Linked DNA regions of Homo sapiens. The protein of the gene in region 1 purifies or fractionates together with the protein of each later gene. This does not show direct contact. Each region holds a gene or a part of one and is shown on either strand. Other genes may lie near its edges.

Region 1 (7,160 bases):
ACTCCTAGATTCAGGTGAGCCATCTCGGCTTCCCAAAGTGCTGGGATTACAGGTGTGAGCCACTGTGCCTGTCCCAGTGGCAAGGTTTAAATATGCTATATATTACAAATAATAACCCACTGAATTATCACAATAACCCTTAGAGGTAGATGTGATTTTTTTTTTTCTTGAAAAAGGATATCACGATGTTGTCCGGTTTTGAACTCCTGGGCTCAAGCGGTCCTGCTGTCTCAGCCTCCCAAGTAGCTGGGGCTATAGGCACATGCCATAGAGCCCAGCTCAGATAGATATGATTTTTATTCCTATTTTAAAGATGATGAAACTGAGGCACAGAGATGTTAGGCCACGTGCTCAAAGGCACACAGCAAAGAAATTGCAGAGCTGATGATTTGAACCCAGGCTGTCTGGTTCCAAAGCTGAAGTTATGAGACAGAGGCTCAACCTGAGTGCAGAATCTGGTTGAGGCAGTGGTATAATTTTATTTTAATTAATTAATGTATTTCTGTTTTGTGAGACGGAGTCTTGCTCTGTCACCCAGGCTGGAATGCAGTGGCATAATCTTGGCTCACTGCAACCTCCACCTCCCAGGTTCAAGTGATTCTCCTGCCTCAGCCTCCCAAATAGCTGGGATTACAGGCGCCCGCCACCACGCCTGGCTAATTTTTGTATTTTTAGTAGAGATGGGGTCTTACCACGTTGACCAGGCTGGTCTCAAACTCCTGACCTCAGTGATCTGCTGGCCTCAGGCTCCCAAAGTGCTTACAGGCGTGAGCCACCATGCCCGGCCAACAGTGGTATAATTTTAAATCTGAATTCAATCTGAATGAGCTGACATTTAAAAATTGGGAGATTTCTTTCTTTTCTTTTTTTTGAGACGGAGTCTTGCTCTGTCTCCCAGGCTGGAGTGCAGTGGCGTGATCTCGGCTCACTGCAACCTCTGCCTCCTGAGTACAAGTGATTCTCCTGCCTCAGCCTCCCAAAGAACTGGGACTACAGGCGCGTGCCACCATGGTCAACTAATTTTTTCTATTTTTAGTACAGACAGGGTTTCACCATATTGACCAGGCTGATCTCAAACTCCTGACCTCATGATCCACCTGCCTCAGCCTCCCAAAGTGCTGGATTACAGGCAGAAGCCACCGCACCCAGCCAAAATTGGGAGATTTCACCTAAAACATCCTGTTTGGGCTTTTTTTTCCCCCTCGGGAAATGAGATCTAGGCCCACCTTCCTGCCCAGTTAGCCTGTGGCTGCCTCCCGTCATCACAGAACTTGAGGAAGTGATGATGTTACGCTGTCCTCCTACCTTTGAGAGGTGTTTGCTCTGCCTTTCTGACTGGTGGGAGCTCTGGCTCTAGTGCTCAGAGCCTGGAGGGGACACCTGGGAACTTGCCTGACCAGTCCAGGGACTTCCTGAGAAGCCCAGGAGACACAGGGATTCAAACATAGCTCAGAGGAGAGACAGAGTGAGGGTGGGGAAGGGAGTAGCTGAGATTGCAGCAAAGCCTTGGGCAGATGCAGAGGGTACGGATCACGTCCACAACTCTCCTCAGGCCCAGCCTCTCTCCTGAACCCCCGACTTGGGCCTGAAGCCTCCCTCTCAAGGGTCGCCTCACTGTCCCCAAGTCCCTCCCTGTACCTCACCATGGATACCCCTCTCCCTCCCCTACCCAGCCCACCAACCCCATGGCCTGTCCACTAGGCCTCCCGAGTGTCTCTCCCACCCACCTCCTCCCTACTCTACCCATCCTGGTCCTGTCCTTTGCTCCCCCTTGGCTCCCTGCCTCAGTGTCCCCCTTCTGATACACCCTCCACAAGGCAGCCAGGGGAATCTTCCTGAAAAATAACAAACCTGACCCTGATCTTCCCTTGCTTGGAAACTTCCATGACTCCACAGCACCCAGGGGTGGAGTCTGCACTCCTCAGCCTGGCACTCACAGGTGTACACCTTCCCTCACCATCATTTGTGGTCACACCCACTTCTCTTTTCTTTCTTTCTTTTCTTTTCCTTTCTTTTTTTTTTTTTTTGAGACAGGGTCTCAATCTATCACCCAGGCTGGAGTGCAGTGGTGTGATCTCAGCTCACTGCAACCTCCGCCTCCCCGGCTCCAGCGATCCTCCTGCCTCAGCCTCCTGAGTAGCTGGGACTACAGGCTTGTGCCACCACACCTGGCTAATTTTTTTTTTTTTTTTGTATTTTTTATAGAGACAGCGTTTCGCTATGTTGCCCAGGCTGGTCTCAAACTCCTGACCTCAAGTGATCTGCCAGCCTCGGCCTCCCAAAGTGTTGGGATTACAGGTGTGAGCCACCGCACCCAGCCTCCCACTTTGTTTTAATAACACTTTTGCCATGGGACATCCTACATCATTTTACTATTATCTTTCTGTCTAAATTCTGCACCCCTCCCACTGCCCTTACCATGCCAGGCCTGGGATCCGGTCAGCTCCGCCCCAACCCAAAATTCTCTCCTCTTTCTAAGCTTCACCCATTGACCACAGTTCCTATTTTCTAGGATTACTGGAATATAGTGACTGTGAGGATTAAGAGTGCCTGTACTTCAGGCTCACAGCAAGATGTGTGACTCTGATCACTGCTGGAAATGGGGAAACTGAGGGGAAGCCAAGAAAAGAGAACTTCTCGGCTGGGCGCGGGGACTCACGCCTGTAATCTCAGCACTTTGGGAGGCTAAGGCGGGAGGATCGCTTGAGACCAGGAGTTCGAGACCAGCCTGGGCAATATAGCGATACTCCGTCTCTATTTAAATATTTTAAAAATTTAAATTAAAAAAAAGAGGAAAGAAAAGGGCCCTTCTCAGAGTTACCGGCTCAGGATTCCCCATGTCCTACCACGCACGTCATTGCCCGAGCCACCCCATTCAATCTCAAAGCGACTTCAAGCGCACACCGGGAGGGTGTGAAGGTGGCAGGCAACGCTCGCTGCCTGATACAGCGATTGTCAGGTGGGCTTCAGGGAAAAGTCGTGCAGTCCCCTTTCCGCGATACTCCCTTCCACCGGGACTCCACACCCTGTCAACCCGATGGTCCCGACAGGCCCCCGACGTCAGGGTCCTCACCTGATTTCTCCACTTTCACCTTCACAGGGAACATGGTTTGGGTCCGGGATCTGGCTAGCTGGGTCAGAGGCGCCCCAAAGGGCCTAGGGTCACAAGTCAAGGCGGGAGAAGGCGGGGACAGTTCAAAGATGAGCTTCGTGGGCCACGGGTCCTCCGCCTTTGGTTGTGTCCAGCCTGGACCGTGGCCACCACCCTTCTGTGGGCGGGCCCCTTCGGCAGTAGCTTGTTCCTATTAGTTATTGCAGCCGTCAATCTCGCATCCTGACCAATTGAGAGCTGCCTCCGTAGTCTCCCAGCTTTAGGTCCCACCCACCTGGGGCTTTGCTTCCGGAAACAAACCATCTACCCCCTAGCTTCCTGGGAGGTGTAGTTCCAGCTTCCCAGACTCACCCTGAGTAACAGCGCCTGCGCCGCGCGGGGCACGGTGGGAAACAAAGGATTAGGGCATCGCGAGGCTTCCCGGGACTTGTAGTGTGAGAAGGGTTGAGCAACACCAAGTTAGCTCTTTACCGGATTTAACCAACCGTTGGGGTCCCTTCATCCCTAAGAGGAAGACTAATGTAAAATAACGTTGGGTTCCCTCTCACTGAGCACTCGCTAGGTGCCAGGTATCTGTTAATCTCTTTGCAGGTACAACTTCATTCATTTTGCAAATATTTATTAGTGTGTCGGGCACTCTTCTAGGCATTGGAGACACCTTGAGGAACAGAATAGACAAAAATCCCTGCGCTAATGGAGCTTATCTTTTAAAGGAGGGAAGATAAACAGTAAACAAGTAAATTTTAAGTGAAATGTAATAGGAGAAAGAATATGATCTGGGCGGGGCATGGTGGCTCACGCCTGTAAATCCCAGCTCTTTGGGAGGCCTAGGCAGGCAGATCACCTGTGACCAGGAGTTCGAGACCAGCCTGGCCAACATGGTGAAACCCAGTCTTTACTAAAAATACAAAAATTAGCCGGGCATGGTGGCATGCGCCTGTAATCCCAGCTATTCGAGAGTTTGAGGCAGGAGAATCGCTTGAACCCGGGAGGCGGAGGTTGCAGTGAGCCGAGATCGGACCTCTGCACTCCAGCCTGGGTGACAGAGCAAGACTCCATCTAGAAAAACAAACAGACAACAACAACAAACCCCTCTCCCCCCCCAAAAAAAAAACCCACAAAAAAAGTGTAGCCTGAAAGGGACATAGGAATATCAAGGTGGTGATTGAATTTTAAATAAGATGGATGGTCAAGGAAGGATTCTCTGAGAAAGCTCTTGACTATTTTTATTTTTGCAGACAACACTTCCTTCAGAAAACGGGAAACTTCCATTTGTCACACGTCTTGGTCCAGATAAATCCCAGGAAGTAGCATCGTGATCTACACTTCTGATGAGAATACTGCAGCCCACAGTAGGAAAGTTATATTTTTGAATTCACGACTACCAGTACAGGATAACAGCCCCTAGAAATGGAAGCACTAGGCCGATCCTACCACTGCACTCCAGCCTGGCTGACAGAGCAAGACTCTGTCTCAAAAAAAAAAAAAAAAAAGAAAAAAGAAAAAGAAATGGAAGCACTATTCCTTTCTTAGTTTCTCATCTAATAGTTTCCTGAGCAGGAAAGTTCCTAGTTCAGAAGATTATGAGTAGTATGCACTGTAAAAAATGTACATCATGTCTAAATACTAAGCCTCGTACAAAGCTCTCAACAGATGTTTTTAAATATTAATAATCATTTATGCCTCAACCTCTAAAAGATCCCAGGAAGTCAGTATCGAAAGTTAGGGTCCTTTATTGGGGGATGTCAGCAGAGAACGTGGGACATGAAAACAAGTCTTAGGAGTTTGAGAAGGGGCTCCCAGGACAGGCTCCTCTGCTTTAAGGAGCCTGTCCTGGGAGAATAAGCAGGGCCCCAGTATGTGCAGAAGTTGTCAGGGGGTGCCCAGGGGTATGGTGAAGGAGAGGTAGTCCCCAAGGGCACCCCAGCGGGGCCGGTAGATCTGGAAGATGGTGATCCAGGAGGTGAGCACTATCACCCAGAAGAGGAAGCCCACAGCTGAGCGCCAGACATCTGTCATGGGAAACAGAAGCTGGAAGGGTTGGCCTCCGGCTGCTCTCCAGACTTCCCTAGACCAGCCTTCCCTTCTCACCCAGAGCCCCAACATTTTGGATCCTCCATTGTCCCTTCCCACCAAGATTCCCCGCTTCCCCCTCTCCCCTGCCACTGGCCTCCCTCCTCTGTGCTCTAGACTCACAGCCTTTGATTTGGCTCTGTTCTGTGTAGGCTGGGACAAGGAAGGCCTCTCGGAAGAACCAGAAGATGTTGACCAACCAGAGAAAAGGCAGGAAAGCAAACCCCCCTAGGGAGAAAGAAAAACAAACAAACAAACCCCAAAACCTCATAAGGCAATGAAGATCTTCTCCAACTCCCACCGAGATCTATTTGGAAGAAACTCTCCCACACCCAAGTTCAAATGGAGATTTCTGTTGTCAGGGACTCAGGAATCTGGCTCCTCTTTGGGATCCAGGAATCTGATTCCTCAACCATCTCTTTCACAGGACCCAAGAGTCCAGGCCCTCAATCCCCCTCCTCTCTTGGGATCCAGAAATTGAGGCCCCAGCTTCCTCATTCCTCAGGACCCAGGCCCTCCCCACTCAAATCCAGGAGTCGGCGTTCGCAGGTCCTTCATCTCTTAGACTTAAGAATCCAGGCCCCGAGGCCCTCTTCCCTCGGGTGCTCTAGTCCAGTCCCCTCTCTTCTCCTGGGACCCTAGCGATCTGCCTTACCCAGGTAGTACTTCCGGCACAGGTTCAATTTCTCCTCATTGGACACTCGCTCCAGGTTCATAGCTGCGCTGGGGCCGGGTCGTCCCAAGGGTCTGCGGGGCAAGACCCAAGCCTTGACCCTAAGTAACAGATGCAAGGATCACGAACAACCACGCCCCTATTAGAACAAATCAGAGATAAATGTAAAGGTCGGTTTGCTGAAAGCAGGGCATCCCCACCCCCACTAGTAAGCTGGCTGGATTAAAGAGCTCTTTATATTTACTAGGGTGGGCGAAACGACCCCCAACTCACCAGGAGAGCTCACTTCCTCCGGCTGGGGTGCCTTAGCTACTTTCAGTTATGGACGTTTGCGCGAGACGCCCCAGGTTTCCCTGGAGATTGTAGTCTTCTTTGGGCGAGGCAACACTGCACGCATGCGCTGTTAAAAGAACTCCTACCGGGGAGTCTATGGGGAGGGCGCGCGCCTCCCACGCGCAAGCGCCCTGGGGCGTTTCCGAGCGCTTGGTAAGCGCCTGGAGAGGGCAACGAACTACACTTCCCAGTGCTCCTAAGCAACGGAAGTGACGTAAGAGCAGCCAGACCTGGAGGGCTTGGGTAAAAATGGCTGAATATTTAGCTTCGATATTCGGGACTGAGAAGGACAAGTGAGAACGGGCGCTGGGAGTGGACTCTCGGGGGGTCGGGGCCGGGGTACTGGGGTCCTGGGTGGTGGGGCGGTGTTTCTGGGGTGCCCAGCTTCCCCGGCCCTCGGTTCACCTTTGTCTTTGCACCTTTTCCAGGGTTAACTGCTCTTTTTACTTTAAGATCGGGGTCTGCCGGCACGGGGACCGGTGCTCCCGGCTTCACAACAAGCCGACATTCAGCCAGGTGAGACCCGGCACGGAGCCTCGGGGGTTAACGGCTCCCTGGCCCTTCCCCTTCTGGGGCCGTCGTCACCATGTCCCGCCTATTCCGGGTTCCTGAGTCCCTCCCCACCGCCCGGCTTTTTTTCTCATTGGACCTTTCTGCAGGCTCCTCCCACCGGTCTTCGTGCCGTTTTCCCGGGAACTTGGTCGCGCCCCCATGCGTACAGGCTACACACGGCGGCTGTTCATCTTTGCCAGTCCCTTCCATCCCGCTGTTCATCCTTGCCAGTCCCCTCCATCCCTTTTCTGGTTTCTTAGGGGCAAAGGATCGCCGATGCACTCATGATGCTTAGGCTGGGGTGTAAGGTTCCACCCCCAACCTTCATGCCTCACTCTCTGTTCATGCAGCCCTGCCCTCTGAGCTCAGGCCCCGCCCCTTTTAAATTCTGTGCAGACCATAGTGCTGCTCAACCTG
Region 2 (7,299 bases), on another chromosome or scaffold:
GTACTACACTTTTCTTCTTTTAAAGATGGGGTCCTGGCCAGGCGCAGTGGCTCACGCCTGTAATCCCAGCACTCTGGGAGGCTGAAGCAGGCAGACACTTGAGGTCAGGAGTTCAAGACCAGCCTGGCCAACATGGTGAAACCCTGTCTCTACAAAAATACAAAAATAAGCAGGGTGTGGTGGCGCACACCTATAATCTTAGCTACTCGGGAGGCTGAGGCAGGAGAATTGCTTGAACCCGGGAGCAGAGGTTGCAGGGAGTCGAGATTGCACCACTGCACTCCAGCCTGGGTGACAGAGTGAGTGAGACTCTGTCTCAAAAAAAAAAAAAAAAAAAAAAAAAAATACTGGGTCTCATCTCGTCACCCAGACTGGAGTGCAGTGGTGCACTCATAGTTCACTGCAGCCTCAAACTCCTGGGCTACAGCAACTGTTTATTATATTTTAAATTCCTTGAAGAGAGAAACTATATTTAATTCATCTCCAATTTGAAGTTACATATTGGCACACTGTTGACCTGAATTATAATTCTCCACAAGTCAAGGAGTGTAGAGTTACCAATTTTTTATATTGCGATTATCACCATATACAAAGACACAGCTTCTTCTAAAAGTTAAAAGAAGAAATTTACCTGGGATAAAAATCAAAGAATTTTAGAGTGTGAAGAACATTAAATATTAATTATATCTTTTGGCAATGAAAATTGAGACTGTAAAAGAACTATTTATTATAGGAAATAGTGACTCAAATGAAAAAATATGACCAACATGAATAACAGAAATACACCGGAAGTTATGATAGATCACAGAACTAGACAAATATTAGCTCTTTGTGCTCAAATTATAAATTAAACTAAATAACACATCTTACACCTACAATATATTACTTTTTTATACTCAGAGCACATTACTGACAAAAACCAACTGTATATAAAATACAAATCACTTAAAAAAAAACATACCCATTATTGTATTTAAAAACGGCCGACTTGCAAAACTATAACATACTCAAATAAATCTATAATTATACTCTAGAAAGCTAATGAAATTTAGAGAAATACAAATTTCTCAAGTATGTTTACAGACTTAAAACCCTAAAGTCAGTCAAAATTGTATCTATTGTATCTATAATATTAACAATCTCTAGAGGTAGAAGTATTAATATTCTTAGAAAGCCATATTAGCAATAAATAACCTTAGCTATAACAATTATGGGCTTAAAGTATTTCCCCATTTTAAACTGATTTTTCACAATCATGAGTATATGAATACTTATCAGTAAGAAAAAAATATAAACAGTACAACCAGAAGCACATTAATTATTCAAATAAACAATCTCATCTTGCCCTTGTGGTTATGTTTCTTTAGTGGTGCTGAAAATAATAACTTTTGGTTCCATTAAGGAACTATGATTTTTTTGCACTATGAATTCTAAAGTATCCTGGAACAAAATTATTAAGTAAAACAAAGCATCAAAGATTACTTTAACAAGTTTATAGAATCAGCAGCTTAAGATAAACATGAAAAAAAACTTACAAATAAGGTAGTAAAATATGTCATCAAATAATATATACAAGTAATTTTTGGCACTGTGTTGGATAGATTCAGGAGCTAGTAAGGAGTTATATTGTTCCAGACTGCTAGTTATGTACTACTCTTATATACTATGCACAGGAAACATGGGAAAGTGTTTATATATCTGTTATTACATATAATTATACCTCTGTTACTGCCTCTGGCTTCAAAGGTCACCTCTTTTCTTCATTTTTCAAGATGGCCTCCATCTTCCACCGTTGCCTGCTATCTATACCCTAACAGTCTCAATACTCTGACTAAACTTAACACTGACAACTACCTAGGGGGAAAAAAACCAGAAAATCATATACTCTTTGTAATACTAAACCAAATATTCTGGTGTCAAAAAAGGAAAAAATATAGATGCATAGTTTTTAATTTGTCTTTTGTGCTTCAGAGCTTTGAGGTTACTTCTGAGATGGAAAGACTTAAGTCGCCTAAAAATAATGGATTGTACAAGTAAAAAAAATTCTAAATCTAATTCCTTTTTATTGTTTTTTTTAATAGAATTCTTTTTTATTAGATAGAAACAGGCTTTAGAAAACTAACAATAGCCCAGGTGCAGTGGCTTATGCTTGTAATCCCAGCACTTTTGAGAGGCCAAGGCAGGTGGATTGCTTGTGTCCAGGAGTTTGAGACCAGCCTGGGCTACATGGCAAAGCCCCATCTCTACAAAAAAAATACAAAAATTGGCCAGGTGTGGTGGTTTGCATCTGTAGTCCCAGCTACTTGGGAGGCTGACGTGGGAGGAGCATTTGAGCTTGGGGGGTCAAGGCTGCAGTGGAGCACCCACTGCACTCCAGACTGGGTGACAGAGAGACCTGTCTCAAAAACAAAACAAAACAAAACAGAAAAGTAACAATAAAACAAGTTATAAGAATTAGACCCCAGTCTTTTTTTTATTGTCATTACTTAGGGAGTTAAAGTAGAGAAATAATAGATACAAGCAACACTGGTCATTGAAATGTCACATATACCTTGCTCTCATAAATGAAAAAAATGACATTCTAATTTATGATATCTTTTCCTTTTTTAGTTTATTTTTATTTTTTTGAGACAGGGTTTTCCTGTAGCCCAGGCTGAGGTGCAGTGATGCGACCACAGCTCACAGCAGCCTAGACCTCCCCGGCTCAAGCGACCCTCTCACCTCAGCCTCCTGAGTACCTGGGACCGCAAGTGTGCGCCACCATGCTGGGCTAATTTTTTGTATTTTTGGTAGAAACAGGGTTTCACTATGTTGCCCAGGCTGGTCTCGAACTCCTGGCCTCACAGAATCTGCCCACCTTGGCCTCCCAAAGTGTTGGGCTTACAGGTTCGTGAGCCACCACACCTGGCATCAGTTTCTTTTGAACATAATTATGATCCATATTGCCAAAGCCAAATAAACTTTGGTAAACCAATAAAAACAAGCTTCAAAACTGAGGACAAGATGCTTGATGGTGATAAGATATCTCATCCAAGAGATTCTTGGCAAAAATAAGAAGTAAAAGGAAGTCATAGATAAGTGAGAAGTAATAATGAACAAGAAAGAGCACTAAATGTTTAATAATGGCAAAGGGGACAGAGGCAAATTATAAGATTTAAGAAATTCTACAAAGTTCTTAAATGCAAAGCCCATGAAAAGTGGTTTCTAATTCTACTGTCAAAACAGTAACCAAAACATTACTCTAATATCAGCTGAGTGTAGTCTCCCAAAACCTTCCTACTTCCTTCTTATGCATTTCCTATTATTTCTATGCATTCAAAGACAACTCTTTCAAACAGAGGATACATTTTTGTTTCCTGGTCATAAGTATATCACTGCATTTCTTGTTTTTTTTTTTTTTTTTGAGATGGAGTTTCGCTCTTGTCACCCAGGCTGGAGTGCAATGGCGCGATCTCGGCTCACTGCAACCTCTGCCTCCCGGGTTCAACCGATTCTCCTGTCTCAGCCTCCTGAGTAGCTGGGATTATAGGCACTCGCCACCATGCCTGGCTAATTTTTTGTATTTTTAGTAGAGATGAGGTTTCACCATGTTGGGCAGGCTAGTCTCAAACTCCTGACCTCAGGTGATCCGCCCACCTCAGCCTGCCAAAGTGCTGGGTGGGATTACAGGCTTAAGCCACCACGCCCCGCCGATCACTGCATTTCCAAGAGTAGTGGTGGCCTAAGAAAGCCTATTTGGGCATGATAAACTGGAAATCACTTAATATATATTCCAGTAACCTTCTTTCTTAGGGTCCTATTCATACTAATAATAGGTACCATTATGAAACATCCTCAATATTTTGAGAATTATACTACACATTTCATCTTGATCAAAAAGTATTCTTAAGATAAAGTCAAAAACTCAGAGAAGATAAGTAACCTACGAAAGTTTTCCATAACTGGTAGGATAAGATAGAGGCAACTCAAGCCCAGTTGGTACAACTCTAAAGCCTGTATGTTATCTTCCATCACATGTCACTGTCTTTTCCATAGTACAAACATGAATAATGGCAATGAACAGTAAACTCCAAATAAAAGGCACACGCTGGCTGACACGCACTATTACTGGCTCTGAGGGTTTCTCAGAGCAACAAAGTTCTCCTAGCCTTTGGCCATCTGTGAACTGAAAAAAAAAAATGTTGTCTACATGATTTTTTTGATAGCCCAGCAGCAAGTCTGGCATATTTATACCAGCAAAACATCCTTGTAATCAAACTACCACTAAGAATAAAATGCATTTTAAAATTAGTAAAAGGCTATAAATATACTAATTTGGAATTTAACCAAAATTAAGTTTGCTTTCTAAGTTATCTGGTAAAAATTTTCATAAGCATTAGACATATCAAACTTAAAAACACACACACACAATTACATAAAACAACATTCAAAAGAATTCAGTAACAACTATGTATTTAGTAACCCTATAAACACAACTATGAATCAGTTAAATTTTTTTAAACATGCATTTTAATTAGTAAGCCCCCTTTTTTCTTTTACCTGTACTGTTTTTAACTGTTGGGTCTGTAACACAGAGGGCTGAGTTGTAGTATTAATCAGTTGACTTCCTGGGGTCAATGCTGAGACACCAATGACAGGTTTCACCTCTGGCCTCCCTCCAATGGTAACTACTTTAATTTGCTGCGGTGGTAACTTAGCATCTCCTGACTGGGCCTGAGTTGTAACTTTCTGAGCCTGGGGTAGTTGGCTATGGGGTAGTGCTAAAACAATTGGTGAACCAGACTTGCCCAAAGTTGTTAAAATTAACTTCTGTCCATCTGGTTTAAGGGTCTGATTGCCAAGTTTAAGATCAGATGTCTGTGATACTTTGTTTAAAATAATCTGATTGGCTGATATAGTCACAGGAGTCTGAGCACCAAGTTTTTGAAGGCCACTTGGAAAAGCTGGTTTCACTGTGGTATTAGAATCTGCTTTAGTAATTGTGGTATTCACTGCAACTTGGTTAGTGTGGTTACTGTACACTGTGATTGGTTCCGTGGAAATGGGCGTGGCTGTAGAGTCACCAGTAGAATTTATGTTGACAATTTCTTCCAGTTCTGTCTCCATGGGAATTGGGGATGAAACAATAACAGCCTCAATACTATCATCATCCACTAAAGTTATACCAGTGTCCATTATTTCCTCTGGAAGCAAACTATTCACCTCAGCTGGCACCACCTCCATGATCGTTCTCCCGCTAGAAAGTTGATCAGGCACTGTAATAAAAGTTGAAAAATGAACAAGTTACTAGGTTTCAAAAGATGTAAGAAAAAAATTCAAAAAAAATGCAAATGGCAAAATGACAATTTTTAAATTGATATATAATTGAATGAAGAATATTCCTGAAGCTTATCTGGGTTAAATCATGTTAACACATCCTCAACCTGCAAGAATCTATAATATAAGTCATATGGGAACACAAAACTAGAAGCAAACATTCTTACTCTCGTCTCAATCCACAAGTATCTTGCACTCAGGCAACACTAAGTCACATAATCACATGAAACTCCTTTCCAACGCCCTCTAATAAAATTTGTAATCTTTGATGTATCTGATCTTATTTCTACCCAGATTTTTTTCCTCTCATTGACAGACTTGAAAACTGCTGATTCACACAAGGAAATAAAGATTTAAATATTAACATATTGTAAAATACATTCAAATCTCCAATGAGCTACGTCCTAATATGAGTGTACTATCCCATTTTAAAAATCCATTAAATACCCAAATTAAAGTTAAAGGAGTTTCTAGAGTAATACATCTCAGCAATTGCAGATCAAATAGCATTTGTGGTACAACTTTGACCAACTAGCTTCATACCAGGGAAATTTTTATTTGGAAAGAAGATTCTCAAACCCTCCTTGGCCATTTACTTACTTACTTAATTAATTAATTATTGAGACGGAGTCTCACTCTGTTGCCAAGGCTGAAGTGCAGTGGCACAATCTCAGCTCACTGCAACCTCCGCTTCCTGGGTTCAAGCAATTCTCCTGCCTCAGCCTCCTGAGTAGCTGGAATTACAGGCGCCTGCCACCAAGCCGGGCTAATTTTTGTACTTTTAGTAGAGACAGGGTTTTGCCATGTTGGCCAGGCTGGTCTCGAACTCCTAACCTCGGGTGATCCACCTGCCTCGGCCTCCCAAAGTACTGGGATTACAGGCGTGAGCCACCGTGCCTGGCCATCCTCCGCCATTTAAAGTGTCAAAAAGAACCATTTAAGAGATGTACAGCCAATCCCCATGAAGAAAAAAAGTAATAATCATAAAGCAGATTACGAAAAACTTTGAGCTGTGGTACTTTTAGCCAAAGGTCTGTAGAACTTCCAATAAAGGAATCAATTTTATTATCTTCATGTATAAAAGACAGCACATCATGTTTATGACAGACTAAATAGCAGTGAGTTATTTGCCCAGAGAACATCAAAGATCCATAGGAACCAAATCAGCAACTTTCTTCTCTTCCTTTTCGTTTTTGAGACAGAGTCTCGCTCTTGTTACCCAGGCTGGAGTGCAGTGGCGCAATCTCGGCTCACCGCAACCTCCACCTCCCAGGTTCAAGCGATTCTCCTGCCTCAGCCTCCCAAGTAGCTGGGATTACAGGCATGTGCCACCACGCCCAGCTAATTTTTTGTATTTTTAGTAGAGACAAGGTTTCTCCATGTTGGTCAGGCTGGTCTCAAACTCCCAACCTCAGGTGATCTGCCCACGCTGGCCTCCCAAAGTGCTGGGATTATAGGTGTGAGCCACCATGCCCGGCCCCCTTTTTTTAAATATAAAAATACACCACCCCGGCTGGGCATTCTGGCAGATCACGAGGTAGGCAGATCACAAGGTCAAGAGATGGAGACGATCCTGGCCAACATGGTGAAACCCCGTCTCAACTAAAAATACAAAAATTAGCTGGGCATGGTGGCATGCACCTATAGTCCCAGCTACTCAGGAGGCTGAGGCAGAAGAATCACTTGAACCTGGGAGGCAGAGGTTGCAATGAGCCGAGATCGTGCCACTGCACTTGAGCCGGGCGACAGAGCGAGACCCCATCTCAAAAAAAAAAAAAAAAAAAAAAAAGATACAACACCCATCCAAAATTAACACACAAGTAGCAAATTACAACTATTAGCATTGGCAAATACTACTACCACCAAAATAAACCATCATTATTGAGTGCTTACAACACTGATGACGTAATTTAATTTATCCTCACAACAACTCAGAAATGGGAATCATCATTATCCCTGTTTTATAGATGAGGCCATTTAGAA
Region 3 (8,101 bases), on another chromosome or scaffold:
CCCAACTCCACCAGTGTTCCCACTCCCTAGACCCCTCCCCTGCCCAGCAAATTATCCTTAAAAAACCCTGGTCTCCAAATTTTCAGGGAGACTGATTTGAGTCATACAAGTCCGGTCTCCTGTTTAGCTGGCTGTGAGTGTATTAAACTCTTTCTCTAATGCAATTCCCCTATCTTGATAAATCTACTCAGTCTGGGCAGCAGGCCAGAAAAACTCACTGGACAGTTACAATTTCAACTCCTAGCATCTTGCTCAAGAACTAAGACAGAATCAGTTAACCTCCACGATCAAAAATGGCTGTGACTTAAAATCTCTTTCTTTGAAGGAACGTTAATGTCAAACATCATTTTTTTGTCCCACAGATTTCAGTTGGGCAGGGCTCAGTGGGAAGGTTCATCTCTGTTGTATACAACATCAGCTAGGACAATTTGACTGAAGGCTGGAGGATCTGCTTCGGCTTCCAAACTGGCTTATTCAACACAGCTGAGGGCCAGAGGCCTTGGGTCCTATCCACATGGTGATAACTGCAGAATTCTTGGCACATAAAGGCTCCTTCCAAACCTCTGCACTTAAGAGATGACCATATCTCATGAGCAAAAGAAAAGAGAGAGAGAGAGAGGATCAAATTTTTGCATTGCTTCTGGGAGCTTAGGGTCAATTCTCTGGAATGATCCTGGGCTCCCTGCCCCCACCCTCCCATTGAAATCATCAGGAAGAATAGGGGTTCTGTCTTCCAGTCTGTGTAGGGGACAGTAGCCTGACTTTGATAGTTGCTGGCTAGTAGACACAACTAGCCTAATGACATTAACATTGACCCACCTTTTGTAATTTTTTACTCAAGCTCTGCTCTCTCCCCCTCCTCCTTTACTCTTTCTTTAAAAGGCCAAGTCACATCTAAAAAAGTTGGAATGAAGCTCAGCTCTTTCCCTGCTGTCTGTCAGTAGTTACTCAGTAAAATCCGTTTTTCACACTTTAACTAATGTTCGGCTTTGTTTATCTTTGACAATAGGTGACCTGGTCTTTCCCACAGTATGTTGGCTGGGTACAAAGAGTGAATGAAGAATGACTGAGAGAATGAGAGACAGAGAGAGCACATGTGCCAGTCAGGTGAAAGACCTCTTGCATTTTATGACTAAGCTTCATAAGTCAAATAATAACCTCAAGGAAATTTAACTTCTCCATATCAGAGGCATCCAAACCAGAGTGACTCCATCTTGAGTGATGGCTAGGAAAAATGGGGCTGGGACTGGCTGGGCTGCATTCCTAGAAAGTTAGGTATTCCTAGCCCCTAGATGTTTATAGTTAAGGGAACACATTGATAACATTTACTAAACAGACCCAGACTTAGGAGTGTCCTGATATCCCGATATCTTGAGAACAGAAGCATTCCTAATTTTGCTTTAAAGATAATATCAATTCTTGCAAAATATAGTAATTAGGAAGATTAATCCTTTATCACAAACCCTTGTGGCAGAGCACATCTCCTCATGATCTTTCTAAATCCTATTTATAAACAAGTATTGTACCTAGGGTGGATGCATTCCTCCTCCTACTTTCGGGAACGTCCTACTCTCTATGGAGTAACTGTTCTCTCATCACTTTACTTTCTTAATAAACTTTCTTTTGCTTTGCACTGTGGACTCGCCCTGAATTCTTTCTTACATGAGATCCAAGAACCCTCTCTTGGGGTCTGGATCGGGACTCCTTTCAGGTAACACTCACACCCCCATTCCACCCCACCCCCATCCCAAAAGGCTTTGAAAACATTGGTATTAACAAGCAAAGGATATTTTAATAAATACATATTTGATGGTTTATTGCCACCAATTTTGCTTACATTGCAATAATTATTTAAATTACATTAACTTTTACTAAAAATAGTAAAGATAATTTCACATCGTTTGTTTAAGTTAAACAGTTTGAAGTTAAACTTTAATTGTTAAAACAATTTAAGTTTTTCTCTTAGTTGCTAAAAGAAAAACTTTGGACAAGTTAACAGTTTAAGCAAACAACAATTCATGAATTGGGCACCACTTAAAACAAGAAGATATTCAGAGCGCTTCTGCAGGTGAGCAGTAAGCTTTAATAGAAAAGTAAAACAGTTACTTGATTGGCTACAGCTGGGTGTTTGCCTTATTTGGGTGTGAGGGCTGGGCCCGGTGGCTCATGCCTGTAATCCCAGCACTTTGGAAGGCCGAGGTGGTTGGATCATTTGAGGTCAGGAGTTCAAGACCAGCCTGGCCAATGTGCTTAAACCCCGTCTCTACTAAAAATACAAAAATTAGCCGGTGTGGTGGTTGGCTCCTGTAATCCCAGCCACTCTGGAGGCTGAGGCAGGAGAATCGCTTGAACCTGGGAGGCAGAGGTTGCAGTAAGCCGAGATTGCATCATTGCACTCCAGCCTGCGTGACAAGGCAAGACTCTGTCACCAAAAAAAAAAAAAAAAAAAAAAAAGGAAAATCCCTAATTAGAGGCTAGTTGGCAGTTTCTGATTGGTTAAGCTTATGTTTTGTTTTACTGTTGTCTTACTGTTTACACTGAATTCTGGTTTGCTTACATATAAGCTCCAGCTACAGAGACAGATGATATCAGGCTCATGGCCTCTTTATTTGCTTTGACATAGTAAAGTGTTGATAATGATTTCCAAAGGAAGAAATATCATTATTTTAAAATCAATATTCCCAGTGTATATACAGGTAAAATACTAAGATTTTAATACACTTATTATTTATTAATTTATTTATTTATTGAGATGGAGTTGCTCTGTCGCCCAGGCTGGAGTGCAGTGGCATGATCCCAGCTAACTGCAGTCTTTGCCTCCTGGGTTCCAGCAATTCTCCTGCCTCAGCCTCCTGAGTAGCTGGGATTACTGGCACCAGCCACCACTCCTGGCTAATTTTTTGTATTTTTAGTAGAAATGGGGTTTCACAATGTTTGCCAGGCTGGTCTTAAACTCCTAACCTTAAGTGATCTGCCCGCCTTGGCCTCCCAAAGTGTAGGGATTACAGGCGTGAGCCACCGCGCCTTGCCAAATTATTTATTATTATTTTTTTGAGACAGGGTCTCTGTTGCCCAAGCTGTAGTGGCATGGTCACAGTTCACTGCAGACTCCCCAGGCTTAGGCGTTCCTCCCACCTCAGTCTCCCAAGTAGCTAGGATTACAGGCGTGTACCACCACTCTGGGTTAATTTTTCTATTTTTTGTAGAGACAGGGTTTCACTATGTCGCCCAGGCTGGTCTCGAACTCCTGTACTCAAGCAGTCCTCCCACCTTGACCTCCCAAAGTGCTGGATTTACAGGTGTGATCCACAACGTCCAGCCTATATACTTAAGATACTTCTAAACCATTTGTGTTCAACTTCTGTTCTTGCCCCATAGTCACCTTGAGACTCATCACTTAGCCAACTCCAAAAGCATTGCTGATTACTGTGAATTTTACTAAGGTTTTCTTAAGAGGGTTCCATTGTCTCAAAATTGTTCCTGAAATATCCTGTTACCTGTCTACCTGATTTTCTCCTATCTTCAGAGTTCCATTTCCTGTCCTCCCGCCTGTCATTATACCTTCCATAAGCCCCTACTTTTGTCCCAGCACTTTTCCCTCTGTCAGTTTACATATCCCACCAAGCAAAACAAAAATAGCAAAACAGTAATGCCTTCTGAATCCTCAAATTGCTCAATCCTCAGATTGCTCCTCAATCTGGAAAATGTTTTATATCAAGCCCATTTATAAATCAAGGATTGGCAATTTAAAAAATTAAAATAAAGAAAGGAGAATTGGAAATAAAATGAATTGGCTGGGCACGGTGGCTCACGCCTGTAATCCCAGAACTTTGGGAGGCCGAGGTGGGTGGATCACTTGAGGTCAGGAGTTCGAGACCAGCCTGGCCAACATGGTGAAACCCTGCCTGTACTGAAAATACAAAAATTAGCTGGGTGCGGTGGCGCACACCTGTAATCCCAGATACTCAGGAGGCTGAGGCAGGAGAATCGCTTGAACCCAGGAGGCGGAGGTTGCAGTGAGCCGAGATCGTGCCACTACACTCCAGCCTGGGCAACAGAGCCAGACTCTGTCTCAAAAAAAAAAAAAAAGTTTAATTCACGCAGAGCCAGCTGAACGGCAGACAGGAGTTTGGTTATTCAAATCAGCCTACCAGAAAATTCGGAGACTGGGGTTTTTAAAGAATGACTTGGCGGGTAGGGGGCCAGGGATTGGCGAATGCTAATTTGTCAGGTGGGAGGTGAAATCACAGGGGGTTGAAGTGGGCTCTTGCTGTCTTCTGTTACTGAGTGGAATTGCAGAACTTGTTGAGCCAGATTATGGTCTGAGTGGCGCCAGCTAGTGCATCGGAATGCGCGGTCTGAAAAGTATCTCCAGCACCAATCTTAGGTTTTACAATAGTGATGTTATCCCTGAGAGCAATTGGGGAGGTCAGGAATCTTATAGCCTCTGGCTGCAAGCCTCCTAAATCATAATTTCTAATCTTGTGGCTAATTTGTTAGTTCTACAAAGGCAGACTGATCCCCAGGCAAGAATGGGGTTTGTTTTTGGAAAGGACTGTTACAATCTTTGTTTCAAAGTGAAATTAGAAATTAAATTCCTCCTGTAGTTAGTTAGGTCTTCGCCCAGGAATGAACAAGGGCAGCTCGGAAGTGAGAAGCGTGGAGTCATTTAGGTCAGATCCCTTGCACTGTCATAACTTTCTCACTGTTAGGATTTTTGCAAAGGCAGTTTCGTGAACGTACAGAGACAGGCCCTTGCTATTATCCCTATTTTTTAGATAAGGATATCCAGGCGATGAGGAAGTTTTACTTCTGGGAACAGCCTGGATACGAAACCTTCACACGTCAGTGTCTTTTGGACATTTTCTCGTCAGTACAGCCCTGTTGAATGTTCTCACGGTGGGGAGGTACGTGTTTAAAATGCGGGGAAGGTGCTTTTATTTCACCCCTGGTGAAACTAGGGGAGCTAATTTTTTTAAACATGATTTTTGGCCCCCTTGAACCGCCGGCCTGGACTACGTTTCCCAGCAGCCCGTGCTCAAGACTACGGGTGCCTGCAGGCGGTCAGCGTCGTTTGCGGCGGCGCAGGCGCGGTGCGGGCGGCGGACGGGCGGGCGCTTCGCCGTTTGAATGGCTGCGGGCCCGGGCCCTCACCTCACCTGAGGTCCGGCCGCCCAGGGGTGCGCTATGCCGTCGGGAGGTGACCAGTCGCCACCGCCCCCGCCTCCCCCTCCGGCGGCGGCAGCCTCGGATGAGGAGGAGGAGGACGACGGCGAGGCGGAAGACGCCGCGCCGCCTGCCGAGTCGCCCACCCCTCAGATCCAGCAGCGGTTCGACGAGCTGTGCAGCCGCCTCAACATGGACGAGGCGGCGCGGGCCGAGGCCTGGGACAGCTACCGCAGCATGAGCGAAAGCTACACGCTGGAGGTGCGCTCGCGGGCGGAGGGGCGCTTCCGGCCTAGTTGGCGTGAACCGGTGCCTTCCGAGCCGCGTCGCGCGCCTCGAGAGACTCTCGGGCGGGTTGCGGGCTCCCAGCCCCGAGAGGGGTGGGGACTTCCTCTGCGCTATTCCGAGGCTCTTAGCCGCTCCGAGGGCTAACCCGCTCTCGCCGCGCTTTCCTGCGGCTTCCGAATGGGGAACGCGTCTTGCCCTAAAGTAGCACAGCAAGGCTGAGATCGCGCTGGGGTCCCGTTGAGGAAAATGGGTGTGTGTGGCCCATCTGACCCCCCGCCCGCCTTGTTAGTAGAATGAACTAGTGTCGTTGTCAAGACCACACGGACAAGGGGAGGGGACTTGCCCTTATTTGCACCGCGATTAACCGGGTTGTGGCACCTGGGTCTCCAGGCGTCTCCGTCTGTTCGCTTCCCCCTGTTAACCAAATTGCCTTTGCCCTGGCGTTGCGGGCGTTTGAGTCAACGTGCTGATGCGTTTTGGGCTGTGTTTACGTCTGTGTAAACAAATTAATACTCATTTCCCCCCAGGCCAGATGAAATGAGCCCTCCGCCGACCCGGATGTAGACACATGCCCCCATTTGTCACTAGGATCAGGACTGTGGCTACCTCGAGGGCTTTTTGGTCACCCCGGGCATTGCACAGGACTCCTGTTGTTGTTGCGATCCGGGTGTGTTAGGTCGCAGCCTTCGGACAGGGCTTGCAGATGAGAAAAATGGCCATTCTAGCCAGTGAGTGTCAGCTTTGTATGCACCTCCCCTTCATGGGCCAATGGGAAGTGACACGGAAGTACGGATTGTTTATCAGCTGTTTGACTGTGTGTGTGGCATTTAAACCTGAGGCCATTTGATTTCTCAAGTCGTTTTATAATTAATTTGTAGAAAGAGTCGGGCAAATAGGTCCAGGATGCAAAGCCTAACCAAGGTATTATTTAAATATGATGTTTTTGGCTATGTGTACTGATGAGTGAGGTTATTTTTAATTTGTATTTGCATTAATAGAATTTTAATTCAATTACTAGTTCCCTCTTTGAATTGTTAGGTCTGCAGAAGATAGTGTATGGTGGCTTTAGAACCCGACAGACCTGAAACCGCTGGAAAAGTTCAGTATGGTGATCTCTAAACTGGAGATATTTGTGTTTACCTCACAGAGCTGTTCTGAAGATTAAATAAGGCAATAATGTAGTTTCTGGCACATAAAGCACCCATATGGACAGTGTTTTCAAGTTTACTAAGCTCTTTGTATATTTACATGATCTGGCTGAGTAAGCTATGTTCCTATTCATCTCTCAGTGCCTTTCTGTAGTCTGGCAAAGAGAAGGACTGGTTGGCTTTTTATGTTGTTTTTTGTTTTTTGGGTTTTTTTTTGGTAAATGGCCTTAAAGGCTTCCAAACAAGCTCTTATTTTACCCTCAAGATAATCCTGTAAATCAGATAGAACAAGCATTATCGCCATTTATTTGAGGTATTTCAACTCATAGCAGTTAAGTTGTATGAAGTCTAGTGATACATGAGCAAGTATCACGTAATAGCTGGTTAGTAAATTATTTTTGAAAACATGTTTGATTACTCAATTCTTTTGATTACTGAGACTTTAGTTTCAGCTTCTTAGCCCAGTTTATTCAGTAAATGATTTACTCAGTAAAATATTCATCAAATATTTCTTGAGCACCTATTACTTGCTACACATTGTTCTAGGTGCTGGATATAGAGCAGCAAACCTGCTCTTGTGGGGCTTACAGTGAGGTACGCTGTGACAATATGGGATGTCATTCTCATGGGAGTGCAAGGGAAAATAAAGCTCTTATGATGTTTAATACAGAATACTGGTTATGGAATTTTAACTTGATTTCTTGTATTTTCTGTGCATTTTTAACCTGTAACTCATTCTCACAGTCCTCAGCCAAGAAAATGCAGCCTCTGAGACTGTTAAGTAATTTCCCCACTGTGTTATAGCTACTGTATGGCAGAGCCGGAATTTGAAACCAGATCTATTTGACCCTAGAAGATGTGACCATGAGATGTTAATTTTGAGGATAACTTTTTTAGTATTATGGAATTTTCAACATATATTTTTTAGGACCAAAGATAAACTAGGCACAGAGTCTACTCTTTGCATAAATTATTTAAAAGAGCTTCGCGCTCCATTTTGTCATCTAAGCACTGTAAAATTCTCACAAGACTAATTCTTCTTTTTAGGAACGATATAGTTGTAAACTTTCTATTTTTTTTCTTTTTTTTTTTCTCCCTCCACCATCCAAGTAGTTGTGAATTTTCTAGAGCCAAAATAGAACATTATAGATTATCTTTTAAACCCTTTATTGAAGCAGAGGATAATGCTGTGACCGACTTAACTTTATGCTTTCTAAGAGATATTGATATAGTAGAGAAATGCAGTAGTTATGCATCTAAATTTGCTTTTACATCATAAATCAAGAATATTATGAAACCATCTCCCAGAGATATATGTGATACACAGATCTTGGCTGTTTTTTTTTTTTTTACAAAAGAACATCTATGCTATTGATACATATAAGTGGGTTTGTAAGACAGTCTATGTGTAAATGTGAAAAAAGGAAGAATTTCCAGTTCTTCTCATTTTCATTTAGACCAGTAATGAATACATTGAAGCTAAAGGACATCTTCCATCC
Region 4 (7,299 bases), on another chromosome or scaffold:
GTGATAGGATGAGCCTCTGTCTCTAAAAAAAATATATAATTAAAATAACATCTTTGCCTGAGCTCAGGAGTTGGAGACCAGCCTGGGCAACACAGTGAAACCCCGTCTCTACTAAAATACAAAAGATTAGCTGGGTGTGGCGGCATGTGCCTGTAGTCCCAGCTATTCAGGAGGCTGAGGCAGGAGAATTGCTTGAACCCGGGAGGTGGAGGTTGCAGTGAGCTGAGATCACGCCATTGCACTCCAACCTGGGCAACAGAGCGAGACTCCATCTCAAAAAAAAAAAAGTTCAATCTCACCAAAAAGGAAATGTAAAATGAAACTAATAGATTAGTAACATCTAATACTGGCTAGTATGTGAGGAAAGGGGCCCTCATACAGTTATCCTCTTCCATGTATATGAAGATATGTGTACATGGGTATTCACTGATAAACTGTCTGTAAAGTCAAAAACTAGATATAGGCCAGGCACAGTGCCTCACACCTGTAATCCCAGTGCTCTGGGAGGCCAAGGTGGAAAGACAGCCTGAGCCCAGGAGTCTGAGACCAGTCTGGGCAACACAGTGAGATCTTGTCCCCCCCAAAATTTTTTAAATAGCTGGTTGTGGTGGTACATGCCTGTGGTCCCAGCTACTCAGGAGGCTGAAGTGAGAGGATCACTTGAGCCCAGGAGGTTGAGGCTGCAGTCAGCTGTGATCACGCCACTGCACAAAGCCTGGGTGACAGAGTGAGACCCTTGCTCAAATTAAAAAAAAAAAAAAACTACAAAGTAGATATAACTTAAGTTTCCAAATAATGTATGAATACATAAACTATAATATATCCATACAATGAAATATATTTAAAAGAATGAAGTAGACATACACATACCAAGATGGAACTGTTCACATGTGGAGTAAGTTAAGTGGCAGGCCACATGCATATGACTCCAACATTATGAAGAAAAAAAAAATCCCTCTTATACATACTTAAAAAATTATTATTTCCTTATCTGTATAAAATAGGTCAAAAGGATTTGTACCTTTTTTTTTTTTTTTGAGACAGAGTTTCACTCTTGTTGCTCAACCTGGAGTGCAATGGAGTGATCTCAGCTCACTGCAATCTCTGCTCACTGCAACCTCTGCCTCCCGGGTTCAAGCGATTCTCCTGCCTCAGCCTCCCAAGTAGCTGGGATTACAGGCATGTGCCACCACGCTCAGCTAATTTTTTGTATTTTTAGTAGAAACGGGGTTTCGCCATGTTAGCTAGGCTGATCTCAAACTCCTGACTTCAGGTAATCCGCCCACCTCGGCCTCTCAAAGTGCTTGGATTACAGGCGTGAGCCATCACACCTGGCCGGAGTTGTACCTTTTACAAGGATTTGTACGATTAACAGTGGTTAACGTTATAAGAGTGGGCCAGGTGCAGTGGTTCAGGCCTCTAATACTAGCACTTTGGGAGGCTGAGGCAGGCAGATCATCTGAGGTCTGGAGTTCAAGACCAGCCTGTCCAACATGGTGAAGCCTCTTCTCTACTATAAATACAAAAATTAGCCAGGTGTGGTGGCATGCACCTGTGATCCCAGCTACTTGGGGGGCTGAGGCAGGAGAATTGCTTGAACCCGGAAGCAGAGGTTGCTGTGAGCCAAGACTGCACCATTATACTGCACAGCCTGGGGAACAAGAGTGAAACTCCATCTCAAAAAAAAAAAAAAAAAAAAGAGTGATTGAAAAAGGTGAGAAAACGCTTTATATATCTCAGTATTATGTGAATTTCTTATAAATGTAGTTTTGGGGGCTGGCTGTGGTGGCTCACTCCTGAAATTTCGGCACTTTGGGAGGCCGAGGTGGGCGGATCACCTGAGGTCAGGAGTTCAAGACCAACCTACTTGGTGAAAAGCCGTCTGTACTACAAATACAAAAATTAGCTGAGCATTGTGGCGGGCACCTATAATCTCAGCTACTCGGGAGGCTGAGGCAGGAGCATCGCTTGAACCAGGGAGGCGGACGTTGCAGTGAGCCGAGATTGCACCATTGCACTCCAGCCTGAGCGACATGAGCAAGACTCCATCTCAAATAAATAAATACACAAACAAACAAATAAGTGTAGTTTGGGGGATTTTTTTGAGAAAGAGTCTTTCTCTGTTGCCCAGGCTCGAGTGCAATAGTGCAATCTTGGCTCACTGCAACCTCCGCCTCCCGGGTTCAGGCAATTCTCGTGCCTTAGCCTCCTGAGTAGCTGGGATAGCAGGTGTGCACCACCACGGCCAGTTAATTTTTGTATTTTTGATAGAGACAGGGTTTCGCCATGTTGGCGAGGCTGGTCTCAAACTCCTAGCCTCAAGTGATCCACCCGCATTGGCCTCCCAAAGTGCTGGGACTACAGGCATGAACCACCATGCCCAGCCTATAAATGTAGTTTTAAAAAGTAATTAATGGCCAGCCATGGTGGCTCACGCCTGTAATCCCAGCACTCTGGGAGGCCGAGGTGGGTGGATCACCTGAGATCAGGAGTTTGAGACCAGCCTGGCCAACATGGCAAAACCCTGTCTCTACTAAAAATACAAAAAATTAGCCGGGCATTGCGGCATGTGCCTGTAATCCCAGCTACTCGGGAGCCGAGGCAGGAGAATCGCTTGAACCTGGGAGGCAGAGGTTGCAGTGAGCCAACACTGAGCAATTGCACTCCAGCCTGGGCAACTAGAGCGAAACTCCGTCTAAAAAAAACATATATATATATATACATATATATAATAATAATAATTATTGTTGGCTAGGCACGGTGGCTCACACCTGTAATCCCAGCACTTTGGGACGCTGAGGCAGGTGGATCACCTGAGGTCAGGAGTTCGAGACCAGCCTGGCCAACATGGTGAAACCCTGTCTCTACTAAAAATACAAAAAATTAGCCGGGCATGGTGGCATGCACCTGTAGTCCCAGCTACTTGGGAGGCTGAGGCAGGACAATCGCTTGAACCCTGAGGCAGAGGATGCAGTGACCCGAGTGCACCACTGCACTCCACCCTGGGCGACAGAGAGAGACTCTGGTTCAAACAAAATAATTATTATTGTTTAATGGCTCCTTATTTTCTGAGTCACACTGTGTTCTGAACAAATTAAACCACCAAACAGCTATTCTTAACACTGGACTTCAATCTCTTCTCTTTGAAATAAAATAAAACTTTAATCATTAAAGTTAAATGATAACTCTTCAGCCTGGTCTGATGGTAATGGGTTATCAGAACTTTTTTTTTTTTTTTTTTTTTTTTGAGACAGAGTCTCACCCTGTCACACAGGCTGAAGTGCAGTGGCACAATCTCTGCTCACTGCAGCCTCCGCCTCCTGGGTTCAAAAGATTCTCATGCCTCAGCCTCCTGAGTAGCTGGGATTACAGGTGTGTGCCACCACATCCAGCTAATATTTCTATTTTTTTTTTAGTAGAGACAGGGTTTCACCATGTTGGCCACGCTGGTCTCAAACTCCTGACCTCAGGTGATCCTCCCAACTCGGCCTCCCAAAGTGCTGGGATTACAGGCATGAGCCAACAAGCTCAGCCTGTTATCAGAACTTATTAACGTTAGTGTCACTAAAGTTTGTATACAACCCCCCACTGCTAAATTTGACTAGCTTCAAAATAAATAAAAATTTACAAAATAAATAACTCTTTAAAAATCTCTTTAAAAAGGAACATTGTTTCTCCTGCATTGACTCTGATATAAAGAAGGCAAAAACTTACATTGTTCTGGCCAAAGATCTGGTGAGGCACGGTCAAGTTTTTCAAAACTTAGCAAAGATGCTTCCAGATCTGTCCCTAGAACAAAACATCCAGATGAACCAAGAAGACAGGAAACACATTAATGTATATGATACTTCAATCTCAAAGGACATAAACTGGAACACTCACCTGGAAGTCTAGAGATATGAGTTCTGTAACTATTGATGCCACTGGTCCGTGATAGAATACAAATAAATCATTCTCCCTTACCAAACCTCACTCTTTCAATCTATGAATGGGAATGATATTTTATTGGGAGTGTTAAGAAAAATGAGTATCAATGAACCCACCTGCATCTTCATTCATACTCTTGTGCTTTCCTCCAGTTACAATGAATTAAGTGTTTCTCCTTCCATGAAACAGACTCTTCTGATAGCACTCTAGATGCCATCTTCTCTTGCTTTATCAAGGACATCATTTGCATATCATCTTTCTCAGGTACCATCAGTTTCTACCTTCTCTAGCCTCATCTCAGTGTCACTAAAGTTTGTACACAACCCCCCACTGCTAAATTTGACTAGCTTCAAAATAAATAAAACTTTACAAAATAAGTAACTCTTTAAAAATCTCTTTAAAAAGGAGCAGTACCAATCAAGCTGGTTGCAGAATTTCTGTGTTTCAAAAAAAAACCCCAGCCGGACATGGTGGCTCATGCCTGTAATCCCAGCACTTTGGGAGGCCAACACGGGTGAATCACAAGGTCAGGAGTTTGAGACCAGCCTGGCCAACGTGGTGAAACCCTGTCTCTACTAAAAATACAAAAAATTAGCTGGGTGTGGTAGCAGGCGCCTGTAATCCCAGCTACTCAGGAGGCTGAGGGAGGAGAATTGCTTAAACCCGGGAGGCAGAGGTTACAGTGAGCCAAGATTGCACCACTGTACTCCAGCCCAGGCAACAGAATGAGACGCCATCTCAAAAAAACAAACAAACAAACAAACAAAAAACACCAGGGCAGGTGGGGTGCCTCATGCCTATAATCCCAGCACTTTGGGAGGCCAAGATGGGTGGATCACTTGAGGTCCGGAGTTCAAGACCAGCCTGGCCAACATAGTGAAACCCTGTCTCTACTAAAAATACAAAAATTGGTCAGGCATGGGGGAACACACCTGTAATCCTAGTTACTGGGGAGGATGAGGCAGGAGAATCGTTTGAACCTGGGAGGTGGAGGTTGCAGTGAGCCAAGATCACACCACTGCACTCCAGCCTGGGCAACAAAGCAAGACTCCATCTCAAAAAAAAAAAAAAAAAAGAGTGCACTGTTATACATGCCCACTTGGGCTTTGGGAGTCACAGGCACCCACCCCTAGATGCTACCGTGGGGCTGGAGCCCAAAAGTGCTCGCCCTGACTCCTACACCTGCCCATCTGCGTGCTCCCTCTCCCATAAGAGGATTGAGTGCACACAGACAAGCCACACCCCTGTCGTATGTCCTGCGGTTAGGGAACTCCCCTATTTCAACATGAGGACTTTTATCTTCATCTGTATGCCAATGACTCCATATTTATATTTCCATTCCCAACCTTTCTAAAGAACTACAAAGGTTTATGTCCAAGTGGTTATTTGAATCCCTCTCTATTTACATATAAAAAAACTGCTTAAGGCCAGATGCAGTGGTGCACGCCTGTAATCCCAGCAGTTTTGGGAGGCCGAGGTGGGTGGATTGCTTGAGCTCACGAGTTTGAGACCAGCCTGGCCAACATAGTGAAAACCCATCTCTACAAAAAGCAAAAAAATTAGCCAGGTGTGGTGGTGTCAGCCTGTAGTCCCAGCTACTTGGGAGGCTGAGGTGGAAGGATGGCTTGAGCCCAGAGGTGGCAGCTGCAGTTAGCTAAGGTCACACCACTGCACTCCAGCCTGGGTGATAGAGCCACATCCTGTCTCAAAAAAAAAAAAAAAATCCCCACTTAAACTTTAAACCTAATTATCTTCAAAACCATATTCCCCCAATCTTCTCCCATCTCAAGAAATAACACTACCATAAATTCCAATTCTCAGATCAAAAACCCAGATGTCATCCTTCATGCATTCTTTTCCTTCACCCTTCCATAACCAATCCATGAGTAAATCTAGTCGTTTCTACCTTCAGAATACACCCTGAAATCAAATAACCCAAGGAACCATCACTTCTTTCTTGGACTACTTCAACAGCCTCTTAACAGATCTCTCTGCTCCCATTCTTACCCTTTCCCCTTCACACCCCCGGAATCTATTCTCCATAAAGAGGCCAGAATTGATTTTTTTAAACGTCAATCAGTTCGTGTCTCTCTCCAGCTTAAAGTTCCTCCCAGCTAAATCTGTGAATGTGTATCTACCACACTCTATAAAATCTTACTCAGCCTCTACCTAATTCTTTGACATCATTTCTCTTCCACTCTTCCCTTGCACACAGTAGTACTCAATATTAACATTTGTTGAGTTTTTATTGTATGCTCAGTATGCTAACCAGTTGCATAACTAGTTCATTTAATGCTATAAACAGCAGTTCTTAACATTTTCTGGGTAACCACATCTCTGGAAATCTGGGAAATAAAATGAACTCACTCCCCAGAAAATATACATACGTACAAAATGTACTTTTCTCTAAACTGAATTTGTTTTGCCAAATATTCCAAAGGAATTTCCAATGGCATTTTAATTGTAAAGAACTCAACTAATACATTGCCTTAATTAAAGCATCCAAAAATTAGCTTCTCTTTGTTACCGATTTCTGAGGAATGTTCAACCATAACAAAAGTAAAGTTATTGGGCCAGGTACAGTGGCTCATGTCTGGAATCCCAGTGCTTTGGGAAGCCGAGGCAGGAAGATTGCTTGAGCCCAGGAGTTTGAGACCATCCTGGGCAACATAGTGAGACTCCATCTCTACAAAAAATAATAAGGTGGGGGCATGGTGGCTCACGCCTGTAATCCTAGCACTTTGGGAGGCCGAGGTGAGTGCATCACCTGAGGTCAGGAGTTCAAGACTAGCCTGGGCAACATGGTGAAACCCCGTCTCTACTCAAAATACAAAAATTAGCCAGGTGTGGTGGCGTGTGCCTGTTATCCCAGCTACTGGAGAGGCTGATGCATGAGAATTACTTGAACCCAGGAGGCGGAGGTTGCAGTGACCCGAGATCATGCCACAGCACTCCAGCCTGGGTGACAGAGTGAGACTCCGTCTCAAAACAAAATAAATAATAATAATAATAAATTAGCTGGGCATGGTGGTGTGAGCCTATAGTACCAGCTACTTAGGAGGCTGAGATGGGAGAATCGCTTGAGCCTTTGAGGGTGCAGTGAGCTATAATCATATCACTGCATTTCAGCATGGGCAATAGAGTGAGAGAGACCCTGTCTCTAAAAGAAAGTTAAAAAAAAATTATTGGGGGTACAATCTAATAACCTACATGGGTGACCTTATGATACCACAGTCTGGGATAGAACTCAGACTCTGCTGTGAGTCTTACTCTCATAAATTAAGTAATTAGATGGCTGTATTTGAATTTCAGTTTTCTCCTTTTCAAAGACGCTCCAGCAAATTTATCACGAAAAAGACAAAAGAGTAAATG

The links.
Region 2: the proteins of LIN37 (region 1) and LIN54 purify together in Homo sapiens (affinity purification with mass spectrometry; 6 studies listed by BioGRID and IntAct, with this or other methods). This does not show direct contact.
Region 3: the proteins of LIN37 (region 1) and RBL2 purify together in Homo sapiens (affinity purification with western blotting; 5 studies listed by BioGRID and IntAct, with this or other methods). This does not show direct contact.
Region 4: the proteins of LIN37 (region 1) and LIN52 purify together in Homo sapiens (affinity purification with mass spectrometry; 8 studies listed by BioGRID and IntAct, with this or other methods). This does not show direct contact.

What each region holds. Positions count from the first base shown.
Region 1 is NC_000019.10:35,744,672-35,751,831, reverse strand, and holds the start of LIN37 (protein lin-37 homolog), read right to left. Parts: upstream 3,257-7,160; 5' UTR 3,108-3,256; coding exon 3,074-3,107; intron 3,019-3,073; exon of another isoform or gene 2,822-3,018; intron 1-2,821. Other genes in the region: PSENEN (gamma-secretase subunit PEN-2), read right to left, coding at 4,985-5,124, 5,309-5,413, 5,841-5,901; U2AF1L4 (splicing factor U2AF 26 kDa subunit), read left to right, coding at 6,441-6,484, 6,620-6,707.
Region 2 is NC_000004.12:82,979,622-82,986,920, forward strand, and holds part of LIN54 (protein lin-54 homolog), read right to left. Parts: intron 5,256-7,299; 5' UTR 5,224-5,255; coding exon 4,540-5,223; intron 1-4,539. UniProt on the Homo sapiens protein: Component of the DREAM complex, a multiprotein complex that can both act as a transcription activator or repressor depending on the context. In G0 phase, the complex binds to more than 800 promoters and is required for repression of E2F target genes.
Region 3 is NC_000016.10:53,429,370-53,437,470, forward strand, and holds the start of RBL2 (retinoblastoma-like protein 2), read left to right. Parts: upstream 1-5,101; 5' UTR 5,102-5,187; coding exon 5,188-5,427; intron 5,428-6,249; exon of another isoform or gene 6,250-6,357; coding exon of another isoform or gene 6,358-6,375; intron 6,376-8,101. UniProt on the Homo sapiens protein: Key regulator of entry into cell division. Directly involved in heterochromatin formation by maintaining overall chromatin structure and, in particular, that of constitutive heterochromatin by stabilizing histone methylation.
Region 4 is NC_000014.9:74,087,722-74,095,020, reverse strand, and holds part of LIN52 (protein lin-52 homolog), read right to left. Parts: intron 3,790-7,299; coding exon 3,715-3,789; intron 1-3,714.